2 linked regions of the Homo sapiens genome follow. The protein of the gene in region 2 purifies or fractionates together with the protein of the main gene of each other region. This does not show direct contact. Each region holds a gene or a part of one and is shown on either strand. Other genes may lie near its edges.

Region 1 (7,027 bases), on a different chromosome or scaffold from region 2:
GTAGCCTCCAACTCCTGCACTCACACGATCCTCCTGCTCAGCTTCCTGAGTAGCTGGGATGACAGGCATGAGCCACCACTTAATGGCTAACTTAAAAAAATTTTTTTGTAGAGACAAGTTCTTGCTATGTTTCCCAGGCTGGTCTTGAAATCCTGGACTCGAGTGATCCTCCCACCTGGGGCTCCCAAAGTGCTGGGATTACAGGTGTGAGCCACTGCGCCTGGCCTGTGGTTTTTTATATCAATTGTATGGAATCTGAGTTTGATCTCACCTCTAGTCTAGAGCAGTGGCTCTCAGGTTTTAGTGTGCAACGGTATCATCTGGAAGGCTTGTTGAAAAATAGACTGGTGGGCCCATCCACAGAGTCTATGACTCAGTAGGTCAGGAGTTGGGGCCGAGGACCTGCATTTTGAATAAGTTATCAGGCAAGGGCTGATGCTGCTGATACAAGGAGGGCACTTTTGAGAAACACTGCTCAAGAGAAGTTCTTGATTGTACATAAATGCATTTTGCAGCTAAATATACACTGAATAGCCTTTAACACAAATTGTGGCTTCATTTAGCAAAAAAAAGAGTTTCACATAAATAACTACAGGCTAGCCTCTGGCTAGGAAGAAATCTCATTAGAGCTTTATACCTTTGATAAAAGAAAAACAAATGTTATTACCACAGCAATACATACTGAGTAGGAAAATCAATCAGAACAAAGACCTTTCAGAAGTCAGGGGTTATTTTCCCAGTTCACTGTTTAACCTTTTTTAAGCACCTGCTTCTGCAGAGTTTGATGACTCTAACTATTAATATATCTGCTTTCCTTGAAGCTGCAGGGAAATAGGGGATATTTTTTTCTTATCTTGCAAGCTCTTTATCCAGAAATTTAAAGGACTGTAACCTTTAAGAACAATATGGCTGGGCACAGTGGCTCACACCTGTAATCCCAGCACTTTGGGAGGCCAAGGTGGGCAGATCACCTGAGGTTGGGAGTTCGAGACCAGCCTGGATGACAAGGCGAATCCCCGTTTCTACTAAAAATACAAAAATTATTTGGGTGATGTGGTGGACACCTGTAATCCCAGCTACTTGGGAGGCTGAGGCACAAGAATCACTTGAACTGGGGAAGGGGAGGTCGCAGTGAGCCAAGATCGCACCACTGCACTCCAGCATGGGCGACAGAGTGAGATTCTGTCTCAAAAAAACAAAAAAAAGTAAAATTAAATAAATGCAAAATGTGTATGAAAGTGCTTTGCAAAATACAGAGTATAATACTGACATATATGAAGCATTGTCAAAATTACTAAACTTAAAAAAAGAAGAACTTGTCAGATACCATTTTAGCTTCAGTTTCAATGATTCAGTAGTCACACTGTTGAGCTATGACTCAGTCAACGAACATTTTACAAAGTACTGGGGATGCTGTGCTACATATGGGGATTCGTCATGCACATGCTTCTGAGTTGCACAGCGGTAACTACACACACCCTTGTCCCCACAGAATGTTCAGACTTATGTATTTATAAGTTAAATGGCTACAAACCTTCATTTTAAAGACCGGCTGGAATTCTTTCAGAGCAGATAATAATTTAATTTGAATCGAGGCTCTTTCGGCTTCTTTACCATCTGCAAAAACATCAAAGAGGGCATCCAAAGCTTCTCCTGCTACCACAAGGGAAGGATCTTTGGTGGTAACTTCAAGCAGAAAGCACCCAATGTTCTGGAAACAACAAAACACATTTAGTATGACTAACACCAGTCTCCAAAACAAGTACCAACTTTGAATGTGGCAATAACTCATGCATACTATTTTATATACAAATGCCAGGGAAAAATTAAAACTTCAAGAGATTAGACTTAAATACTTATAAACATACCAAGTATAAGCAAGATAAATTAAACATATTATAGTTTATATTCATAAATAAAGTGAATTAAAATCCATAAATGATGTATGATTTTGGAAATCACTAAATTTTCCCCTCTACCTCTCTCAAAAAGGATTTCTCCATGATGTCAAGATGCATAGAAATATTATCTGTAACAACAACGACAACAACAAAAAATCTGCTTTTAAAAGCATAAGAAAAACACTTTAGGCCAGTTGCAAGTGGCTCACACCTGTAAGTTCAGAACTTTGTGAGGCTAAGGCGGGAGGGTCGCTCGAGCCCAGGAGTTCAAGACCAGCCTCGGCAATGGAGCAAGACCTCATCTCTAAAAAACGTAAAATAGGACTGATCTGAATCGAATCTAGTCTGTAGATCTAACTGTCAGTTTGTAGGAAATACAAGGATAAAAAAACAAATTTACCACCACAAGGTAGCAATCAGACAAATCCAGAAGGTTTTGGACACTATATTGGACAACTGATCCAGGAGGTGAGAATAACCACGTGGTGCCGGGGAGGAACTGTTCAAGATTAAGAGAGAAAGAGAAGACCCCACAGGAAACATAACATGTGGACTTCAGCAGTGTAAACAAGCTCTCTGTAAACAGATAATTTTGAGGCAACTGTAAAATTATGAATATGGACCAGGAATTAGACACACTAAGAAATAACTGTTGCCGGGTGCAGTGGCTCATGCCTGTAATCCCAGCACTCTGGGATGCTGAAGTAGGTAGATCGCTTGAGCCCAGGAGTTCAAGACCAGCTTGGCCAACATGGCGAAACCCCATCTCTATTAAAAATACAAAAATTAGCCAGGTGTGGTAGTGGGCACCTGTAATCCCAGCTACTCGGGAGGCTGAGGCAGAAGAATTGCTTGAACCCAGAGGCGGAGGTTGCAGTGAGCCGAGATCACACTACTGCACTACTGTACTCCAGCCTGGGTGACTGAGACTCCATCTCAGAAAAAAAAAGAAAAAAAAAAAAGCTTTGCAAGTATCATTTTTCAAAAATAGATTCTTAAAAACATCAGTCATCATTGTAAAGTTCTTAGCAGGTTAAGAGGTACTTTATAATAATGAGTTTATTATCCACTAGTCTCACACTTCAGCAATTATTAGCACACCAAAGTGTAATGTTACTATGACTGTCCTTTTAATTACTAGTGACGCTGTACTCCTAACAGTGCAGTTTGTGAGCAACTGTGCTAAGTGGTAAGAGCAAATATGCTGAGGGAATTGCTAGTATATTGGCACTACCAGGGTTGCTGCTTAAAATTTATGGAGTGGTATTAGAATTAATTAACTGTGTTGTATTTTTCAGAATGCATGTTGCCTGGTGTGCAAGGAAAATGGTGTGGATTGTTCATTCATCAGCAGGAGAATGTAACATGCATACATTGGATGCAACAGCAAAGGCAGAAGGCATCTTTAAAAATTCTGAATTTGCCCTTTCACTAAAGACAGATTTATTTTTTTAAAAAAGTACCTCTGGAATAACGTTAAATTGTAAAATGTGGCTCAACTTTTCAAATACTTACCTAATTAATACACATAGTTAGATCAAGCCAAAGGGTATATTCTAATAATATGACTCAATAAAGCAACTTGATATGACTTCTTCTCTTCAAGTCCACACAAGTTTTAAGAAATCCTACACCAACAGTTCTTCTCCCATTTCTAATTATTTAACATGTTAGGTCAGAAGCAAATTGTTTTACCTTAAGAGTTTCAAGTGTACCATCTTCTTTGGCAAGGACGCTGCCAGTGATTCCTAAAATGCTAACGACATTCACTCTAACCCCGACATTACTACTATGAATGCCTGCTTTGCATAATGTCATCAGCTGATCAGGAGTCATGCACTGTTAAAAGAGAAGAGGACAGTATTTATAATGTTAAACTCAATTAATTCTATCAGCATGTGAAAACCGGACTGACAGGAATCTCCTCTATAGGCTACAGGATTTTAAGAGTGACATAAACTCCTGGCAGGTAAGTTACTATTAATATGTATTCCAGTTCTCCCAGACAGAGCTGGTAATTCTGAACTAAGGTGAACCCTGCTCATGTCGGCACTGTTATCTAATATCAAAGGGGCTCCATTTAATTTGATGAAGACTTTCATTCCAGATGTACACACACTAAAGAGAGTCCAATTCCTTTTTAATATTAATGGTAAGAAAAAGGCTTTGAAAGTATAAATAGGATTGTGTGGTTTTAAAAAAATTGGCTGAGTCTATACAAGGTAAGAACTTACTTTGAGATATCTGTATTATCATAATTAAAGACTGTAGAAACCATTACATTATATGGTGCTTCTACCATGTAGTGGATAATTTTCAGTTTAAGGCTGGGCGCGGTGGCTCACGCCTGCAATCTCAGCTACTCAGGAGGCTGAGGCACAAGAAACGCTTGAACCTGGGAGACAGAGGTTGCAGTGAGCTGAGATTGTGCCACTGAACTCTAGCCTGGGCAACAGAGTGAGACTATCTCCTATAAGCAGCAGCACAGTGTAGTGATGAAAGGCTTGGAATCTGGAGCCAGACACAAAGGCTTGGAATCTGGAGATTGAACCCTGGGTTCAAATCCTAGCTTCACTACTTATCACTCGTGTGAGCCCCTACACTAGACTAATGTATTTTTATTTTTTGTAGACATGAAGTCTCACAAAGTTGCCCAGGCTGTTCTTGAACTCTTGGGCTCAAGCAATCCTCCCGCCTCAGGCTCCCAAAGTGTTAGGATTATTAGTATGAGCCACTGCACCTGGCCCTGAACATGGGCTTTGAGTAATTTTCCTTAACCATCACACTGATCCCATAAGCTGCTGCTTACATACCAGGGGAAATCAATAAAAATACTTGATATTCCTATAGGCCCTAGAGTATAAGGTTTTCTGGTCCATCCAACAGCCACATGGCAGGCTATGCATCCCATTACCATTCCTACTTCTTAGAAACTGAGGGTCAAATTATGCTCTTCAAAAAAATTCTTAGCTTTGGAAAGCTGAGGCAAGAGGATCACTCGAGAGCAGGAGTTTAAGACCAGGCTGGGCAACATAGCAAGACCTCATCTCTATTAAAAAACTAAAAAATAAAAATAAAGTATAAAAAAATTTTAAAAGCATTAAGAAAAAAATTATATAAAGAAGCAAAAAGAAATAGTGTTATTGGCAATAACAAGAGCATTGTTATTTTGATACTATTAAGTACATTCCGTAGGATAAAGCAAATAATAGTTTTAATGTCACTACAATTTTAATGTTACTACAGCAAACAATTTTAATATCACTGTATAGCAAATAATTTTAATGTCTTTTAATGTCACTACTACAAAGTACATTCTGTAGGAGAAAGCAAATAATAAAATTTTTGAAAAATATTTTTCTTTCTTTTCTCTAATTTTAATTTTTAAATTATTTATTATTATTATTATTTTTGAAACGGAGTATCGCTCTGTCGCCCAGGCTGGATTACAGTGGCCCGATCTTGGCTCACTGCAAGCTCCGCCTCCTGGGTTCACACCATTCTTCTGCCTCAGTCTCCTGAGTAGCCAGAACTACAGGCACCCGCCACCACACCCGGCTAATTTTTTGTATTTTTTAATAGAGACGGGGTTTCACTGTGTTAGCCAGGATGGTCTTGATCTCCTGACCTTGTGATCCGCCCACCTCGGCCTCCAAAACTGCTGGGATTACAGGCGTGAGCCACCGTGCCCGACCTATTTATTATTATTTTTAAAGCCAGTCAAACTTAGCGTGGGGGGTTGTATACCAACTTCAGTGACACTAATGTTAATAAGTCCTGATAACCCACTACCATCAGACCAGCTGCAAATAAGAATTTTAATGTCACTAATGTATCTTTTTGGGTACAATGTACCTTTTTGGGTACAAATGTATCTTTTTGGGGGATACAAAAAGATAGAAATACAAAATCGAAAATTAAGTAAAAATATTGTACCATTTTTTATTTAAACTGGAAATTATCAGGATAAACTTACTATTTTTGTCTCCTAAAAAAATGCCTATTTCCTAGCTATTTCCACTAAAAAGACCTAGAAACAATGGCAACATGATAGCAATAAGCACTCCACAATTCACTTTCCCCACTAAAGAAATCAGAGCTTCTTGGAGAAGTAACTAATTCCAGGGTTTTTTTTTTTTTTTTTTGAGACGGAGTTTCACTCTTGTCACACTCTTGTCACCCAGGCTGGAGTGCAGTGCAATCTTGGCTCACTGCAACCTCCACCTCCTGGCTTCAAGCGATTCTCCTGCCTCAGCCTCCCAAGTAGCTGGGATTACAGGCGCGTGCCACCACACCCAGCTAATTTTTGAATTTTCAGTAGAGACGGAGTTTCGCCATGTGGGTCAGGCTGGTCTCAAACTCCTGACCTCAAGTGATCCGCCCACCTCAGCCTCCTAAAGTGTTGGGATTACAGGCATGAGCCACTGTGCCTGGCCAGATTCCAGGTTTTAAGCAAGAAAATTACAAATTGAACCTGGGACATCCTATGCCTGGAAGCAAAAGTGATCAAAAACCTAAAATTCTTGTAAAAGAGGCACAGGAGCCAATTTGAAGGGACTCCTACTATCCAAAGATGGGATGAATTTGGCAGCAAAAAGCATGACTATAATGGAATGAAATACAAATATATAAAAAACCCTGAGTTCAAAATGATACTAAAAAAAAAAAAATCACTGGTCACTTATAGAGATTGCTAGGATAGCTATTCTGAAAAAAAAAAAAATCATAGCTAATAAATGTAAAAAAAAAAAAAAGAAAAGACAAAATTAGGGTATCTCTATTCTGCAACCCACTAATGACATAATGGAGCCAGGCAACCACAATCACTGGTTATAAAACCATTATGTGAACCCACTAATTAATCTCAGCATCACTATTTTATAATATCATATGATTTGTGATATAAATATAGGAAATATATAAAGCACTATAAATTATTCTTGCCAAAAAATCTGGACCTGTCTAGATTATTTATTATAAATACAAAAAATAAATAAATAAATAATCTGGACCTGGATCTAATTAAGGCTCTAGACCTAGCTCCCGGCTCACAGGAAACATGGGGGACAGAGGAATGCTGAACGATGCCATCATGATGAGTTGGCCAAATCTGCCAGTGCAGAAAA
Region 2 (7,055 bases):
AAGGGACAAGTCTTCCCCTTCAGTTATGGTCTAGGAGAGCCATGGAGGGTCTCCCTGGCCTCCACAAAGCCTCAGCTGGCAAGGGGGCTCCAGGCTGGCCCGGGATGGGAAGATCCGAGCAGCTTCCACCTTCCTTTCACCCCCTCCTAATACTGTGTGCCAGCTCCTGGGGTGGGCTCTGTAAGCCACTGGGTCCTACACTGCCTCTCCTTGCTTCGGTATTTTCACAGAGTCTTGCTCTGTCACTTAGACCGGAGTGCAGTGGTGTGATTGATCTTGGCTTACTGCAACCTCTGCCTCCTGGGTTCAAGCGATTCCCCTGCCTCAGCCTCCCAAGTAGCTGGGGTTACAGGCACGCACCACCACACCTGGCTAATTTTTGTATTTTTAGTAGAGACGGGGTTTCACCATATTGGATAGGCTGGTCTCGAACTCCTGACCTCAGGTGACCTGCCCACCTTAGCTCCCAAAGTGCTGGGATTACAGGTGTGAGCCTCCGTGCCCGGCCTGAAAATAGTTTACAACTAACACATCAAAGCCAGTGATTTCAAGGGTTATGACTGCTTCAGAGAACACTAAATGTATTTAAGATTATTGGAACCCTCATACACTGGTGGTAGGAATATAAAATGGTACAGCTGTTCTGGAAAAATAGTCTGGCAGGTCCTCAACAGGTTAAACCTGGGTGCAGTGGCTCACACCTATAATCCCAGCACTTTGGGAGCCTGAGGTAGGAGGATCGCTTGAGACCAGGAGTTCAAGACCAGCCTGGGCAACATAGTGGGACCCCTATCTCTACAAAATAAATAAATAATAAAATAAATTAAAAAAATATTTAAAGGTGAAACCTAAAGTTACCTTACGACCCAATCATTCCACTCCTAGAAATATACCTGAGAGAACTGAAAATGTATGTCCAAAGACCTGTACATGAATGTTCATAGCAGTATTATTCATAATAGTCAAAAGTTAGAAACAACCCAAACATCCATCAGCTGACAAATGGATAGAATGTGGTATATCCACATAATAGAATATTATGCAGCCATAAAAAGGAACGAAGTACTTAAAAAAAAAAAAAGGAATGAAGTACTGATACAGGCTGCAAGGGGCTGAACCTTAGAAACATTCTCTGAAGTGAAAAGCATCAGATACCAAAGGCCACATAGTATATGACTGCATTTATATGAAATGTCCAGCACAGGCAAATTCATAGAGAATTTGAGAGTCAGTAAGTGGTTGCCAAGGGATAGGGGAAGAAAGGATTGGGGAGTGACCATGAAACAGCCTTTCTTTTGGGCATGATAAAAATGTTCTAAAATTAGACAGTGGTGATGACTATGCAACTCTGAACATCCTAAAAATTACGGAAACATATACTTTAAAAGGGTGAATTGTACGGCATGTGAACTGTATCTCAACAAAGCTGTTATAAAAAAAGTTTGCATGAGATTTTTAAAAATCAGGTGATACAAAGATGTATATTAAGTAAACAACAGTACAATTGGGGTTCAGTGGGGTGGGGGGATTCAGAAATGACCCAACAGTTCCTTTAGGACAATGAAATAAACCCAGCTTTACAGTTATGGAAACTGAGACTAGATCGGAAGGAAAATGCGTCGCCCGGGCCACATCACTACTAAATCCGGTGTGTCACAGATCTGTTCAAATCCAGAAGCCTACCCTCGCCAGCAGACCACCCTGCTGAGATGAAAGGGTTATCACATGGAGGCTAGGGAGAGGTGTCCACCCACAGCCCAGTCTGGCAGACAGACATGCAAGGGAATGTCTGTTGGGAAGTGAGAAAAAGGGCTGGCTAACTCTGTGGGGTTCAAAACAGGAAGCACCCAACAATACCAGGAGAATGCCAGGGAAGGCTTCCCGGAGGAGGTGCTGCTTGAGGGGGCTTCTGTAGGATAAGTAGGAGTTCAACAGCCCGCCTCCTCAACATCCCCAAGGACATTAAGTCAGGAGGCCTGTGAGTGAGTTTCAGCTCTGCCACATCCTAGCTGTGAATCCTAGGGTCACGGGCAGGTGACCTCTCCAAGCCTCAGTCTCCCCATCTGTAAAAGGGGAAGGGGGCAAGAGGTTAGGCACGGTTCTTTCTAATGACTCTGCTGAGGTGGATGGTTCCTTCCCTAGGGAACGGGCCTTTGAGTGGGAATGCCAGACCTCGACCTCTGTCCCATCTAACAACGACTCTGCCAGGTCAGGCGTGCTCAGCCTCTGAGCCCATGCTCCCAGTCCCCTGCTACCAGTCCCAGTCCCGGCTTTCCGGGCACCTCCCATCCAGCTCACACCGAGAAGCGGAGTTTACGGAGGGAGGTTGGGGGTTGGGGTGGGATCCTCGGGTCAAATTCCTCTCCACTCCTCACCAGTGACCTCCAAGTTCACTAGGGCTCCCCAACCCAGTGCTCCCAGCGCCCACCTCCCCAGCCGACGATTTCCGCCCCCAACGCCTCCACTTCTGACGCTCCTCGCAACTCCACGGCTGCTGCAAGTTAACTTCCACGCGCCCTGGCGCCCGCCTGGGGGTCCCCGCGCGCCTGGGCGAGGTTGGGGACTCCGGAGGCGGGGACGCGCCGCCCTCCCCCCCAGTCCCCCCGCCAACAGACGCTGAGCGTCTCCCAGGCGCTGGGTCCGAAGCGGGAAGCGTGGTAACGGGGGCCCGGTGGATGCCGCACCCCGCGGAAAGCGCTCGGGACGCCGAGCGGGTGCGGATCCCAGAACCGCGCGCCCGCGCCGCCTGCCTGCCTCCCAGATCCCAGCTCCCAGCCCCGGAGCCCGAGCAGTCGCGCCGGGCCCGGAGGCAGCCGCCAGGACGGAGGGCTGCCAGGCGCCCGAGGCCGACCCGCACGGCCCCCAGCCCGCGCCCCCGGTTGCAACCCGAGGCCACCCCCTGCCGCCCCAGGGCCACCTACCGTGGCGAGACGCGGCGAGGCAGCCCCACGCACCCAGCGACTCCCGGCTCTCCAGCCGCCCCAGCCGGGGAAGGGGGAGGTGCCCGCGCGGGGGCGGGGCCGCGGCGACGTGACGTACGGGGGCGGGCCCGATACGCGGCCCCGCCCCGCCCCGCCCCATCCCCTCCACTGCGCCTCGGGACCGCGAGGTGAGCAGAGGCTGGTCGGGAAGTTTCCCGGAGGCTCGCCCCGGGAACCCCGCCCCGCCGCCCTGGAAGCCCCTGTCTGCTCGCTGGCTTACCCCTAGGACGGGCAGCTCACCACTTCTCCCGGTCAGTTCTGTTTAAGAGAAGTTCCTTTCTGCCTGTAAGCAATGAAGTGGAATGATCACCAAAAAGTGGTGTAAGAAAAGAAAAGTAGACCCGCAGCGGGGTGTATTCGTGCTACTGTTTGTGTAAAACACAGAAAAAAGAAAGGGGTGGTCTGATGTATAGTCATACACACCAGTGGTTTTGGAGGGAGTTTTTGTGGATATACCACATTCTCTCCATTTATCAGGGATTTTGCCCTGACATCCCTCCACCACCACGACATTTGGCAATCTCTGAAGACATTTTTGGTTGTCATAACTGGGGAAGTGGAGAGGCGATACTGGCATCTAGTGAGTAGAGGCCTGGAATGCTGCTAAACATTCTGCGGTGCATAGGACACCCTTTCCACCCCCAGCCCTGCCACTACCCCCCCAAAAAAAACCCTGCAAAAAATGCCGAATAGCGTAAAGGTTGTGAAGCCCTGATATACACAAATGAAACAAAACTCCTGACTGATAAATCTTAGCACAGTCTAAGTTCTATAACCTTTCAGTGCTTCTGCTTCTTCATGTGTAAAATTGGAAAAATAATAGAGCTATCTATGCATCGTATGCTTGTGCATTGAATACCTGAAGAAAAGGTAGGGTAGGCATGCAGGCTTACTTTTCATTGTGAACTTTGGTTCTTTGTTCTCTTTTAACTTTCTATTTGCCATATGTATATATTATCTGTTTAAAATAAATTTCTGGGTCAGGTGCATGGCTCACACCTGTGATTCTAGCACTTTGGGAGGCGAGGCGGGCGGATCACTTGAGGCTAGGAGTTCAAGACCAGCCTGGCCAAAATGGTGAAACCTCGTTTCTAATAAAAATACGAAAATGACTTTGGGAGGCCAAGGTGGGTGGATCACATGAGGTCAGGAGTTCGAGACCAGCCAGGCCAACATGGCGAAACCCTGTCTCTACTAAAAATACAAAAATTAGCCGGGTGTGGTGGTACATGCCTGTAGTCCCAGCTACTCAGGAGGCTGAGACAGGAGAATCGCTTGAACCTGGGAGGCAAGGGTTGCAGTGAGCTGAGATTGCACTGCACTCCAGCCTGGGCAACAAGTGAGACTCTGTCTCAAAAAAAAAAAAAAAAATGCAATCCCAGCACTTTGGGAGGCCGATGCGGGTGGATCACCAGGTCAGGAATCCAAGACCAGCCTGACCAATATGGTGAAACCCTGTTTCTACTAAAAATACAAAAATTAGCTGGGCATGGTGGTGCATGCCTGTAGTCCCAGCTACTCAGGAGGCTGAGGCAGAAGAATCGCTTGAACCCAGGAGGTGGAGGTTGCAGTGAGCCAAGATCGCACCACTGCACTCCCACCTGGGCGACAGAGTGAGACTCCGTCTCAAAAAAAAAAAAAAAAAATGAGCAGGGCATGGTGCTGCTCACCTGTAATTCCCCCTACTTGGGAGGCTGAGGCACGAGAATTGCTTGAACCCAGGAGGCAGAGGTTACAGTGAGTGTAGATCGCACCACTGCACTCCATCCTGGGTGAGTACACACACACACACACACACACACACACACACACACACAGAAACTAGGGCACACAGATATTAAGTAATTTGCCCATGGCCAGCCACATGTTCATTCATTGGTCATTCATTAATTCATTCATGTGTCCAATAAATAGTTAGTGCTTGCCTTATGGAAAATGCTGGGACTGATAAAGCTGCCTCCATGGAGCCAGCCATTACTGGTCTGGAAACAATACAACAACATTACATAGTGTTTATTGCGTGCATGTTAGAGACTTCATATGACTGATTTGATAGACACATAGATTAAACACCAGCAGGGTGTTTTATAATGTCCTTTTGTGGATGAAAAAAATGGAGTTCAGAGGAAGAGGTGTGAATGGGGGCATTTGTTTAATAACATTCTAGCAATGGCATTTCCTGAGCTCTCTATGCTAGGCACAGATTCAGCAGCTAACAGGGGGACAAAGGTCCAAGTTGGGGAAGCTAGATCCTTCAACAAGCCTTCACAGTAAAGTGAGCACCTGTAACTGATGAGGCAGGAGCAGCAGAGATTAACCTGGTCCAGGGAGGGAGGGCCAGGCGTGTGTATACATGCCAGAGGCATGGGTGGGGATCCTTGGAAGAGTGCACTGGTCACAGAATCTAGCAGGTGCAAAGGCCTAGCAGGAAGGAAGCGAGCCTGGGGCCTTGCATGAAGTGCAGAGTGGACAGGATGTGGTGGAGGTGAGAGAAGAGATCAGAGGTGTCTGCAGGGCTGGATGCTGCAGAGCTTTGTGGGCTGTGGGAAGGAGTCGGGGCTTTTCTCTTGCAGTGATGGAGAGACAGGGAAGGTGTTCAACAGGGGAAGGGCATGGGGAGCCTGACTTTCTGCAAAGATCCCTCTGGTGCTGTGTGAAGAAGAAACAGGCAGAAACTGGTTTGGAGGGTGTTGAAATAATTCAGGAACCCAGAGAGGGGATGTGGGCATGGAGGGGGTGTTTTGGTTCCGGAGAGGTTTGGAAGACAGAATTGGCAGATCTCAGTTGAGAGGCTAAGGAGGAGGATCAGAATGATCGTCTTGTTGTCTAGGTTGGGACTTCTCTCAGTACCCCTAGCTCAGTGAACCTTTCCAGGTCTCAATCTGTCTGTCACCTCCTTGAGGAAGGCTAATTGCCCCTCAGGACATCGTGGTGGACCAGACACCAGACTGTGCAGCCCAGGAATTTGATGTGACTTTGAAGGCAGACAAAATAATTCATTCCTCCTGTCTGCATCTTCAGCCGGGAACACCTAGAGCAGATACCTCTTCTGTCTTCCTCCCCAACCTATCTTCCCAGCATCTAGGCAAAACCCAGTACTTAAGAGGTTTTATCAAAAGCAGGAAGAATATTTATCAAAAGCAGGAAGAATAGATGTAGCATAATACACATTGATCCAAAAATTCTTTCCAGCTCTGACATTCAAGAGGATGAGGTTGATGTTATGTCAATAATTACACTTTAGGCCAGGCTCAATGGCTCACTCCTGTAATTCCAGCACTGTGGGAGGCTGAAGAGGGAGGATAGCTTGAACCCAGGAGATTGAGACCAGCCTGGGCAACATGGTGAGACCTTGTCTCTACTTTTTTTTTTTAATTAAAATTTTTTTAAAAACCATTTTATTTATTTTTATTTTATTTATTTATTTCTTTGAGACAGAGTCTCACTCTGTTGCCCAGGCTGGAGTACAGTGGTGTGATCTCGGCTCACTGCAACCTCCGCCTCCTGGGTCCAAGCAGTCCTCCTGCTTCAGCCTATTGAGTATCTGGGATTACAAGCATGCGCCAATATGCCTGGCTAATTTTTGTATTTGGAGTAGAGATGGGATTTCTTCATGTTGGCCAGGCTCGTCTCCAACTCCTGACCTCAAGTGATCCACCTGTCTTGGACTCCCAAAGTGCTGGGATTACAAGTGTGAGCCACCATGCCCAACCACAGAAAACACTTTATTCAGGTGCTTGCTATGTGCTAAACACCTTATAATTATTATATTCAAGCTGATCATTTACCCTCTCCAAGCTTTTGGTGTTTTATTATCATTACTCCCATTTTACAGATGTGGAAACAGAGGCTCCAGCAGGTAATTTGATTTGGCCAAGGATAATAGCTGGTAATTGTCAGAGCTGGAATGCAAACTCAGGTCTCTCTCACCCTTTCTAGTACACTGATAGAAGGCAGTGGCTCGGCAGTGGGCAGGAAGTAAAAGTAAGTGGGCAGGTTTTCTTCTCCTGCTGGAAGGGTGTAGTATTATTGTTCCTAGCTGGGGATCCAGGCTTCACAAAGCATTCGTTGATC

What was found.
Region 1: the proteins of TPST2 (region 2) and HEATR3 purify together in Homo sapiens (co-immunoprecipitation; 2 studies listed by BioGRID and IntAct, with this or other methods). This does not show direct contact.

What each region holds. Positions count from the first base shown.
Region 1 is NC_000016.10:50,096,943-50,103,969, reverse strand, and holds part of HEATR3 (HEAT repeat-containing protein 3), read right to left. Parts: intron 3,741-7,027; coding exon 3,597-3,740; intron 1,712-3,596; coding exon 1,535-1,711; intron 1-1,534. UniProt on the Homo sapiens protein: Plays a role in ribosome biogenesis and in nuclear import of the 60S ribosomal protein L5/large ribosomal subunit protein uL18 (RPL5). Required for proper erythrocyte maturation.
Region 2 is NC_000022.11:26,587,132-26,594,186, forward strand, and holds the start of TPST2 (protein-tyrosine sulfotransferase 2), read right to left. Parts: upstream 3,002-7,055; 5' UTR 2,922-3,001; intron 1-2,921. UniProt on the Homo sapiens protein: Catalyzes the O-sulfation of tyrosine residues within acidic motifs of polypeptides, using 3'-phosphoadenylyl sulfate (PAPS) as cosubstrate.